Linked DNA regions of Homo sapiens: region 2 is linked to region 1. Evidence: fine-mapped expression QTL. A gene starts in region 1. The other region holds a variant in brackets. All regions are shown on one strand. Distances are between the middles of the regions. Region 1 holds the start of LINC02941 (long intergenic non-protein coding RNA 2941). Region 2 overlaps LINC02941 (long intergenic non-protein coding RNA 2941).

Region 1 (5,397 bases):
AAGGAAAGAAAAAAAATAAAGAATGATGCTGGTTTGGAAATACTTTTAGAGATTGCTGTCTCCAACTGTGCTTGTTCTCGCTGTCTGTTATGGTCCATTAGATAAACATGGTGTTCAACAGTCAGGCTGTTGTTGATATATTTGGCAACACTGATAATGTGATCTATGTTTAGGAGGAAGTGGATGCATCATTCCATGCGGGCATAGGTTTTCTGAAAGTGATTGTTCTTTTTACAAGAAAAAGTTAGATAAGTCATTGAACCTTAAATTCTCACTAAGAGTCTGAACATTTTTAATTTTTGTCATCTGAGGTTTTTTTTTTTTGGTGCTTTTATTGGAATTTCAGATTAATAGTTGGGCTTATTCTCAGAAGCAACCAGTACTAACTGAAAATAAATGCAAACCTGGTTGCTTCTGACTCTTGAGGGTGAAATTAGTATAACAAGAAAAAGGGAGGTGCTTGTTATCTGAGTATATTTCTTTATTGTTCATCAATCACAGTTTTTAGTGTTTTCATTTGTAACCTGCAAGTTTAAAAACAAACAGAAAAGAACCTTGAATCTTAAGATTCTTTTTCTGTTTCTCTCCCTTATATCTATTTATCTATTTATCAATTAATCTACCTACCTGCCTATCTACCTATCTCTCTCTACATACACATATACACATATGTACTATATTTAGACTACATATGTATAGTACATATGTATATGTATATTTAGTACGTATGTATATGTATATGTGTATTTATGTGTATATTTGGACTGTACATATACAGTCTAAATATAGTACATATATGTATGTATTTATACTATATATGCATATTTATACACATATACAGTCTCTTTATATATGTAGTCCTGAAGAAAGGATTGGAATATATTTCATCAAATAAAATACTAACATATTTTGGACATAAAAGGGCATAAAGTCTGAGACATGGAATGTCTTGTAATGTCCAGCTGAATCCTAAATATCCTCAGTGATAGGATTTCAGGCATTTCTCTTGGAAAGTGATTCCATTATCTAATAGTTTTCATTGGGAGGAAATTTTTCCCAACAGGCTTAATGTTCCTCTTCTCAACTGGTTCCATTAAACCTAATTACCCCTTCCTAAAGCTGAGCAATTCCTCTCCTATTGGTATTTACCAAGTTTTAATAGTGGAAAGCAACAATTAGCTCTTCAGCTGTCATAAAATCAGTGTATTTTAAACTTTTTTGGTGTTTCTTTTTAAATGGTATACATACATGCATATGTATATGTGTATCACACATACAACTAGTCACCAAATTTGCTTTAGTGTTTACTTAATGCTGAAATCATATCAGTATTTCAGATGTGCTTACATGGTAAGACATTATTGACTTTTCTCTTATAAATTCTTTATGTCCACAGGTGGCCACTAACAATATAGTAGCCTTCATTCACATTTTATAAAAATGGGTTATAGGTGACAAGCCACAGCTTAACAATCTCTAGCCTCTGTGAAAGTTGGCTTATGTCTATAGTTTGGGCTGGTGAAGATTCCAAGAAAAAAATGCCACTGACCCCATTCAGTTCCATCAAGAAAGGGAATTTTGTTCTATGGGGGAGATGGATGTTATTACTTATTCTCTAGAGAGGGACGTTTAAAATCACTTCAGATTGTTGGAATCTATAGCCTGCGCTATCATGGCAGGAAGCTCAGTGATTTTTAAATTATTTACAGGTAAAATCCCCACCTCCTGTAGTTTTTATTTTTAGAGTGTCCATTTCAGGATTTTAATGCTGAGAAAGTGAAACTATGCTCGCTCTTGTCATCTTCTTCCCTCTCTCTTCCTTTGACCTTCCCCCTTCGCCTCCCCTTCCCTCCTAGTGCTCTGCTCCTTCCCATTTCCTTTCCTACCTCAAATCCCATTACCCACCGCCATACCTTTTTTCCTTCTTTCTCTGACTCTGATTTTTCCCAGTTCTCTCTTAATGAGGTTTATTTGTGAGCCTCAAGCCTCATATTATTGTTCAGTCTTTGGGTATCCTCCATGCTGGGGGCTCCTTCCTGGGCCCATGAAAGATGAGTTTAGGGTCTGAAAGAAGGATCTTTCTTCTTGCCCTCAAGTCACTTCTGTAGCCTGTTGTGGTTTGCATGCTAGATGCATCTGGACTACATGGAAAAGATTTCCTAGAAGTGTCTATGGACTGACTGTGTTACTCCCAAATTCATATGTTGAAGTCCTAATCCCCATCTTGATGGTATTTGGAGGTGGGGCCTTTGGGAGGTAGTTAGGCTTAGATGAGATCATGAGGTTGGGGACTACGTGATGGGATTAATGTCTTTCAAAGGAAATGAAGAAACACAGGAGCTTTCTCTCTCTCCATGCTCAGGTACTGAGGAAAGATCATATGAGCACACAGCAAAAAGGTAACTATCTATCAGGTAGGAAGAATGCCCTCACCAAGAACCATATCGGCCAGTACCTTGATCTTAGACTTCCCAGCCTCCAGAACTGTGAGAAAATAAATGTCTGTTGTTGAAGCCACCACATCCATGGTATTTTGTTGTAGCAGCCCAAACTGACTAAGACAAAGTATCTTCTTTTCAAAGATTGGACTTTATATTTTTTACTTGTGTTAGTATTTCATAATCCCAAAGTTCTACAACTTCCATATAACAAAAATTTTGAATTCAGTACAATGACCTTGTAAGTATTTCATTTATAACAAGCCTCTTTAAAATATATTTAGTAACATTGCTTTAATTAGAAAGAATTTAAAATATACGATGATGTCTTAGGTATGTTTATTTTTAGTGAGAATTGATTTGGTTGCTTTGTTTTGTTTTGAGATAGGGTCTCGCTCTGTCACCCAGGCTGCTGGAGTGCAGCGACGGAATGCAGTGGCACGATTTCAGCTCACTGCAACCTCAACCTCCTGGGCTCAGGTGATTCTCCCATCTCAGCCTCCAAAGTAGCTGGGACTACAAGCAGACACCACCACACCAACTAATTTTTGTATCTTTTATAGAGACAAGGTCTCAGTTTACTGCCAGGCTGGTCTCGAACTCCAGGCTTAAGCCAGCCACCCAAAGTGCTATGATTATAGGTGTGAACCACTGTGCCTGGCTGTTGTTGTTTTTAGTCATGAAATATTCAACTTTGTCCAGCCATCCTGGGCTACTCTAACAACTGTAATTGCTTTATAACTACTTAGCTATGGATTTCTGGAATCTGAAATTGAGGCCATAAGCAGAAATGACTAAAATATAGAATTCTTTCTCCTATCTTTATTTGTTCATCTAGATATTGGAACTGTATCATTAAATTTAAAGGGGGGAACTAGTATTGACAACAAATTAAATTATTTCAACCAAAACCACTTAATAGGTATGTTGACTGTTAGTCATTACCAAATCAGCTAAGAAAAAATAGTTTTATTTCCACTTTGTTGATTCAACAAATAATTTTCATATTTGTAATTCATATTGACAGTCACAGATTCCTAGGATCTCTATTAACAGATACCTCGTTTGTGCCTGTGATTATTTCTTCATCTGTGCCTGTCTTTGCCCTTTCCTAGCTGAATGTCCTTGAAAAAATCATTTGGCCTTTTTGTGTCTGTTTCCTCATCATGAGGTGGAAAAATACATAGAGTCAAATGTGTGAGGTTGTTTCCAGAAATTAATTTAAGTAAGCACTTTGAATACTACCAGACCATAGTAAGTTCTATGATGATGACGACAGATCCAGTTGAGAGCTCATTTGCTGGCAGCATCCTAAATAACTCTGCTTCATGGAAGAAAGGCTCTGTAAATACCAAAGATTAAGATCCTTGGTTTAAGACTCAAGGAATCTGTTTACAAGGTAAGTAAGCAAGAGAACAAAAACAAAACATAGTTTATACAAGGCCCATTCAATCACAATCTTATCTTTTCAATTTCAAGTCTATCCCCTTTAAGTTTCCATGACATAAATATCAGCTGACATACACACAAGGTGACTCACCTTCTTCCCATTAAACTAGGTTGAGATTAAAAACAAACAAGCAAACAGCTGGAATGTGGCACGTGGGTCAGACCCTTCTGAGTCCAGTTGGGTAACTCAGCAGAGATCAGAATGATCTTCAAAAACCAACAAGCCATTGGCACGTATCTTCAGGCATGCTTGAAGTCTATGGGGCCAAATGGTAGAGTATCCTGGCAGAGCCAAAAAGTCTTCTTTTATGACACAGAAAAGAAAACTTCTTTCAAAGTAGTTATGCAACCCAGGAGAACACAATGCATCCACTGTGTGTGTCCTGGGGCTGTCTATGAACACATGATTTCATATTTTTGTCCTCTGTAAACTTCAGCATTGATGATGAACATTATTTCAAGGAAATATCCCACTACTTTATCTCTGTAAAGACATCCATAGAGAATGTAAGTTATAATTTCCTTATTCATTTTTCTGGTTAGAGAAGGCATTTCTATTTTAATGGTCAATTATTATATTCTGAATTTGCCACAAGTCTCCTTTTCATATTTAAACACTAGGGTTTTTTTTTGTTTGTTTTTTAAATTCTTAAGATAAATAGAAAAGTTAAGGTTAGAAAATGTTCAAAACAATTGCTCACCTTATAAAATCTTGTTAGGGAAGTAATTTTGCTCATTTCATACTGTTGACATTTCTGAATTTCAGTAATCATTAATTTTTTTAAAGCTGCCAGCAGATATGTACAATACTCCTTTTAGATATTATTCCCATCAAAGACAGATTTCACCTCTTTCACTCTTTGTGTCATTTCTCTATTATTTTGAAAATATTACTAATGCCTTCAAGTTCATTTGTATTCTGTAAGATTCTCCTTGTATCCAAGCAACTCCATCTGAAAAAATAATTTGTTTTTTTTAATGAGAGATATATTCAAAACAAAACCCTGCATATATTTATGATTTTTTGGTAATAATTTTCATGATACTAATTTCCTGGAAAGGGATTTGCACTTCACGAACAAACAGTGATTTCCTTTGAAACCTTCTCTGGTCTATGTCACCACAGTTATCTAAACAATTTAGATGTCCCTTTCTTGACTAAACTTTTAAAAAATGTTGATTCTGTTCTGTTTTTAGAAATGATACACATCATCAGATAATTTGTAAAACAGAAAATATATTAAAAAATAAAAACTTCCTTAAATAACCATGGGATAATCAAGGTTGTAGTAGACTGCCAAGTGAGTTATAAAAACTCCAGAATTATGTCAGAATTAGACAGATAACCAAAGAATCTGTGGGGCACTTTGATGAACTCAAGTGAATCCTTATATTCATCTTTACTGAGAAAACTGTTGGGAATGATTTCACTTCCATTTTTTTAAAAATATAAAGCATATCCTTCAGAGTGGCACATGCAGAAATATTTTTTATGCGTGTATATTTACTG
Region 2 (5,397 bases), 61 kb after region 1:
ACTGGGTTCTACGCTCATGAACATCAAAAAGAGTTTTGTTTGCATTGCATAATTGGACATCTAAGAGCAACGCTCATATAAATGAAAACTTTGAAAGAGTATCTGCATTAAGAAAGATGTCTTTATATCCACTTGGGAGAAATGATCCTCATATAAAGTTATATAAAATTTGGGATGAACTCTCTCATTCTTTTTCATCAAAAAACTAGATGAGAGATAATTATTAATGAATCAAGTTTGGTGAGAGAGATGTCAAATGGTTTTATATAAAATGGTAAACAGGCAAGTTATTGATAATGTCATACTGTATATATCATTCTTTGTATGTACACTTATTCTTGTGGGCCATGAAATTAATATATAGCATCTACAAATTGATATTCTGTTATGCTAATAAATACTCTTATTATAGAGATGTGAAAATAAGTAGAATCCTGTCATTGATACATTTTTATTTGTTTGGTTCAAAAAACACTTTGGCCTATAATGCGGATGCCTCTAACTACCTGTTGAAAGGTATAGTTAGTGCCTAGAAGAAAACAAGTAGCCTGATGTAAACCTAAATATTGAAAATTTCAGGAAATATCATAGCAATAAACACTACTACAAAGAAACATTCAATACAACAATGCCTGTTTTTTTCGTCTTAAAAGTTGATATGAGAACAATGTTTAGTTACCTTGGTTACAGCAAATTCTGCACAATATGCTGTTTGTCTCTGAAGGAAATTTGTGTATGTGTTATTGTGGGAGGTAGTAGCAAAGAGAAATTGATATATTTTTACAGATTTTTCTTCTATTATTAAGTAATTTTTGTGTCAACCTTCTTTCGTCGATTAAATAAAAATATACTTATGCAAACATCACTCTTCTGCCTAAAACTATCCTTAGGCATACCTCTGCATACTTCTCATTTACCCACCAGACACAGAGACTTCTGCCTAAGGAAAGGAAATAAGGAGTTTGATGGTCAGCATAAACTTTAAAAGTGGCAGTATATGATTTTATCACCAGATGTGGAATATGAGAATTACAAAAATTGAGCTAGAGAGTTATTTTCTCCTGATATTTCTTCTTGACCTTGGAAACTGGGAGAAGTGAGTTATTCTTGTAAGACAATGAGGAAATGTAAGTGATGAAATGTAAAAACGAAACAAAACCCCCCCAAAAACCCTCAGAGTCTAGAATTATCTTTCTTCTACCACAGCTACTTCCGTCGGTGAAGGAAAACTTACATTCTGGCTGCATTTGTCAAGGGTGGCTCCATATTGAGGAAGTAGCTAATCAATGCAATGAAAGCATGAGCAGCCAACAGTCTTGTTTCCTTATGCAAGTGATACTCTGGGTTCAATTCTCTTCACTATAGAAGAAAGCAGGAAATCTGGTTCCTTTCTTCTGCTGCTTCTCCTGTCTCCTCATCTTGCAGGTAGCCTGGTGCAGAAAAATAAAGAGCAGGAATAATTAGCTGTCTTATATAGTAACCAGTCTCCCATTTTTTCTTTAATTACAGAATTTTGAATCTTACTGAATTATTATTGCATAATTGGCCACTCTGTAAAAGGACAATGTTCTCCAGCCTCCCTTGCAGCTATATGTGGCTACATAACCAAGTTTTGAACTATGGGATTTGAACAGCTGAGATGAGTGTAACTTCTGGGTCACATAGTTAAAGGAAATAATTGTGCCCTCTCTGGCTGTTTTCCCTCTTTATCCTGATGAGAACAAAGGCATGATGGCAAGATCTGAAACAATGAACTTGGCCCAGCTAATGGAAGCCATGCATTAAAGATGGCAGAGCAGCAAGTTAGAAGAGTCCTGGGTTCCTGGAGGTTGTCAGATCTCCTTCTTTGTCTCAGACTGTAATGTTCAAACTTTTCATGAGGGAGAAATAAACTTCTAACTTACCTAATGCACTGTTACAGTGGGTCTCTCTGTTATAACAGTGGAACTTTGATGTTGCCAAAACTTATAAACAGCAAAATGGGAGCTTCTCAAAATTTAATGGACACAAGAATCACCTAGGGATCATGTTAAAATGCTGATTCTGATTCAGTAGAGGTGATAGATACATTTTATTTATCAGCTTGGCTAAGCTATTGTGCCCAGTGTTTTTGTCAAACATTAGTCTGGATGTTGCTATGAAGGATTGTAGA[A/T]GTGACTAATATAATCAGTTGACTTTAAGTAAGGGAGTTTGCCACCAGAGATGTGGATGGACCGTTAATGGACCATGATGCACTGTCAATTGAATGCCTAAAAAGTAAAAAGCAAAGTTTCCCAGAGAAGATAGAGTCCTTTGTTAATACTGCTACATAGAAATCCTGCCTGAGTTTCCAGCCTGCTGGCCTTTTCTGTAAATTTCAGGTTTGCCAGCTCCCACAACTGCATGTGCCTGTTCTTTAAAATAAGTCTCTTCACACACACACACACACACACACACACACACACACACACACACACACACTCTCTCTCTCTCTCTCTCTCTCTCTCTATATATATATATATATATATATATATAAAAATAGATCTATATACATGTATATATACACACATAGGCATATATACATATATTTTATTGATTTTGTTTCTTTGTTTTTATACCTACTGTTTAATACAGTAGGTATAAAGCAAATCCTGAGAGTTTGCATTTCTAGTTAGTTCCCAATGCTGCTGCTCTGAGCACTATGCTTTGCATAGTAAGATTCTAGAAAACTGTTTTTCAGGAATCATATGCTTCAGTCCAGACTTTGACAGAAATTTTCTGTGAAACCTCAGGAATGCCATGCAGTACGTAGCTCTCACTTCCTCATCTATGAGATGAGAATGTTGGATTATATGATCCCTGTGACCCTCTCAGGATCTAATACATGGTAACTTTGTGACCCTCTTGCCAAGAGGTCCAGGTGGGAAGGCAACATGGGGATAGAGCTTGTGGCACGGCAGACCCCAGAGCTGTATCAAAGTGTGTGGTCATCATGCATGGCTTCTTGGTGCTGTGGCACTGATTTCCTGTGTTGTTACACCCGATGGACATTTGTAAGTTGTATGGGCAGCCATTGAGCTGGTGACATCTTACATCCAGCAACTTGATGCATGAGAAAAGAGACTCAATTCTAGCATGTTAGATCTGGAAGAGAAATCTAAGAGCTTGATTTTCTTTCTTCCCCAGGAAACTCATTTCCCAGCGCAAAGGACAGAGCAGGTCCAATGACATGAAACAACCTCTTTGTGTCATTACCTTATATTTTATGCATATGTGTGTTATAATGACTGTAGAATAATCTTACAAATTAGAGAACTATGTCAATGAACTTACTCGTTTACTTCCCAAATCTGGACTAGGATTTGGAAAATTTTAATAATAGCATCACTATTTCATTTATTCTTTAAGAGTAATAACAAAGAGTCTTAAAATTACAATCTGTCAAAGTTGTGCTTCTATTAGAAGCTTTCAGGTGCTGTAAACAGGGCTGTGCTGTAGAATACAGATATTCCTTCTGACAGTATGATCCATACCTATTTGTCAGCTTTACTTTCTAAAATCCTAAATTGAAAAAGGGCTTTGTTATTATCCTTTGGGGCCACAACCAAATGGAGCTGTAATCATTCTTGAATGGTGAGAATCTGTTTTCATCCATACTACAGAACTTTTAGTCTCAAAACAGATATATTCAAATGTACAATATGGTCCAGTAGCCACCAGACAGTCTTTACGTAGGGGTTGCAATTCCTTCACTCTCCTGTTGTCTTAAAGCCCAATCATAACATGGCATGAAAAATGGGCTTACTGCATTGTACAAATGCTAATAGATTGTTTACTGATGGGGTTTTGGGTGGCCTTATATCAATAGAATAGCAAAGGCTACTCTAGGAACATATCTGTTCTGAGAACATATATCTATTCATTCAAAGTAAGATTGTATATGTATATATCCCACATATCTGGGATAAATAGATTTCTTAACTTTTACCTGAAATGCTGCAGGAGGTTTGTGTTCATTTCAGTGTGACTACATGTATGTAAGTGTGCTTTTGCTATGTGTGTGTATGTATGCATGTGTGGTATGTGCACATGGGTTAAGACTGTGAGTGGAAAAAAGAGTCAATTTCTTTTTCTTAGCATGTGAATTTGAATGCAATCAAGAACTTTAATTTATTTTCTTATTTTCTCAGTGTCAAGTACTTTTTCTGTCTCCCTCCCTTAAAAAATTGCCTTAGGAGAGTCTTCTAATAGATGCTACTCTTTTTTTTAATGCCTAAAGGACATGATTGCTTAAACAAAATGAAACAAAAAAAGAGCTAGAAAGCGGCAAAGGGATGGAAGACATTTGACCAGAAATAGGAACCTATTGCTGCCTTGGGTGGAAGTATTCTTTCTCAACATTTGGGGTTAAGGACAGAAAAAGAAATGAGGATATGAGAAAAAAAAATATCTGAGTGGACAAAAACTGACACTTATCTTTATTTAAGCCCATTTATTTCTATTTTAAATTGTCCCTGGAAAGAAAAACAGGATGGAAAGCTTAAAAGGGATAGAACCTGGTATCCGTGTATTCTATCCTTCACCTACCATATTAAAATAGATCCACTTGCTCTAAAGGAGGTTGACATAACCTTTTATGAACTATCAATGCTATATCAAAAATCCTGACATTCTTCATTCTACAGAATACAAACAGCACCTTTCATATTGTGACAGCAAAGCACCGTGGTAGTCTGATTTGTGGTTGTTTGGATGTTTGGTTTTTAAAATTATTTTCATTAATTTTATAAAGTGTTAGGAGTTGAATGACTGTGAAAGAACAAATACATCTAGTTTATCTTTGTTGCATTTCTTCTGGTCTATTTTCATTTGTCGAGGAATGACAATATTCAGGAGCTAGTGGCAATTGAAATCAGACTTTGAGAATTTTGGCTCAGCTTGAGATAGCTTATTGTAAAAACATCAGAGTTAGTTGTGTTGTTTTAAACTGGTCGAATCATTGCTAACTGATTTGCACAAGGAATTAACTTCATTTTATGGAAGAATTTGTATTCATCTACTGTTGACTGCCTTATTCCTATCTCAACATTAGTCTATTCAGAATGTGGGATCAGCTGCATATCTCTGGCCCTCTATCGAACCCTGACAATATAATGGACCTATTTTGTAGTTAATTCATGGTGTCTGGTATGGATCCAGCAGTTTAACAGATGGATCTCTAGTCAGTCTCTTCTCAAACTCTTTATTAAATATTTATAGAGCCAGATTGAAAATAGGCCCAGCTTTGCTCCTGGAGGTATGTGTACAGACCTCTGGACCAGGGAAGATCAACCTGGTCAGTTCAGGGAGGAGAGACAAAATCTTTTCTTCAAAAAGTTTCAGAAGCACATTGAGTAATTGCCTTACTCATAGTGAGAT

The links. PIP is the estimated chance that this variant, and not a neighbour inherited with it, causes the effect. A credible set is the group of variants that fine-mapping cannot tell apart.
Region 2: its variant is the best candidate, but not a certain one, in a credible set for the expression of LINC02941 in tibial artery (GTEx, PIP 0.85).

Annotation. Positions count from the first base shown.
Region 1 is chr6:139,974,034-139,979,430 of GRCh38, forward strand. LINC02941 (long intergenic non-protein coding RNA 2941) reads left to right here and starts at 2,286. Exons shown (of 2, transcript NR_121623.1): 1 at 2,286-2,399. LOC103352541 (a long non-coding RNA gene) reads right to left here. Exons shown (of 3, transcript NR_121624.1): 2 at 4,589-4,840; 3 at 4,317-4,371.
Region 2 is chr6:140,035,195-140,040,591 of GRCh38, forward strand. The region is part of intron 1 of LINC02941 (long intergenic non-protein coding RNA 2941); the gene reads left to right. LOC107986652 (a long non-coding RNA gene) reads right to left here. Exons shown (of 3, transcript XR_001744384.2): 3 at 1,075-1,430. Among named protein-coding and RNA genes, the nearest start is that of LINC02941, 62 kb to the left of the region's middle. The variant A/T (reference allele first, on the strand shown) is at 2,153.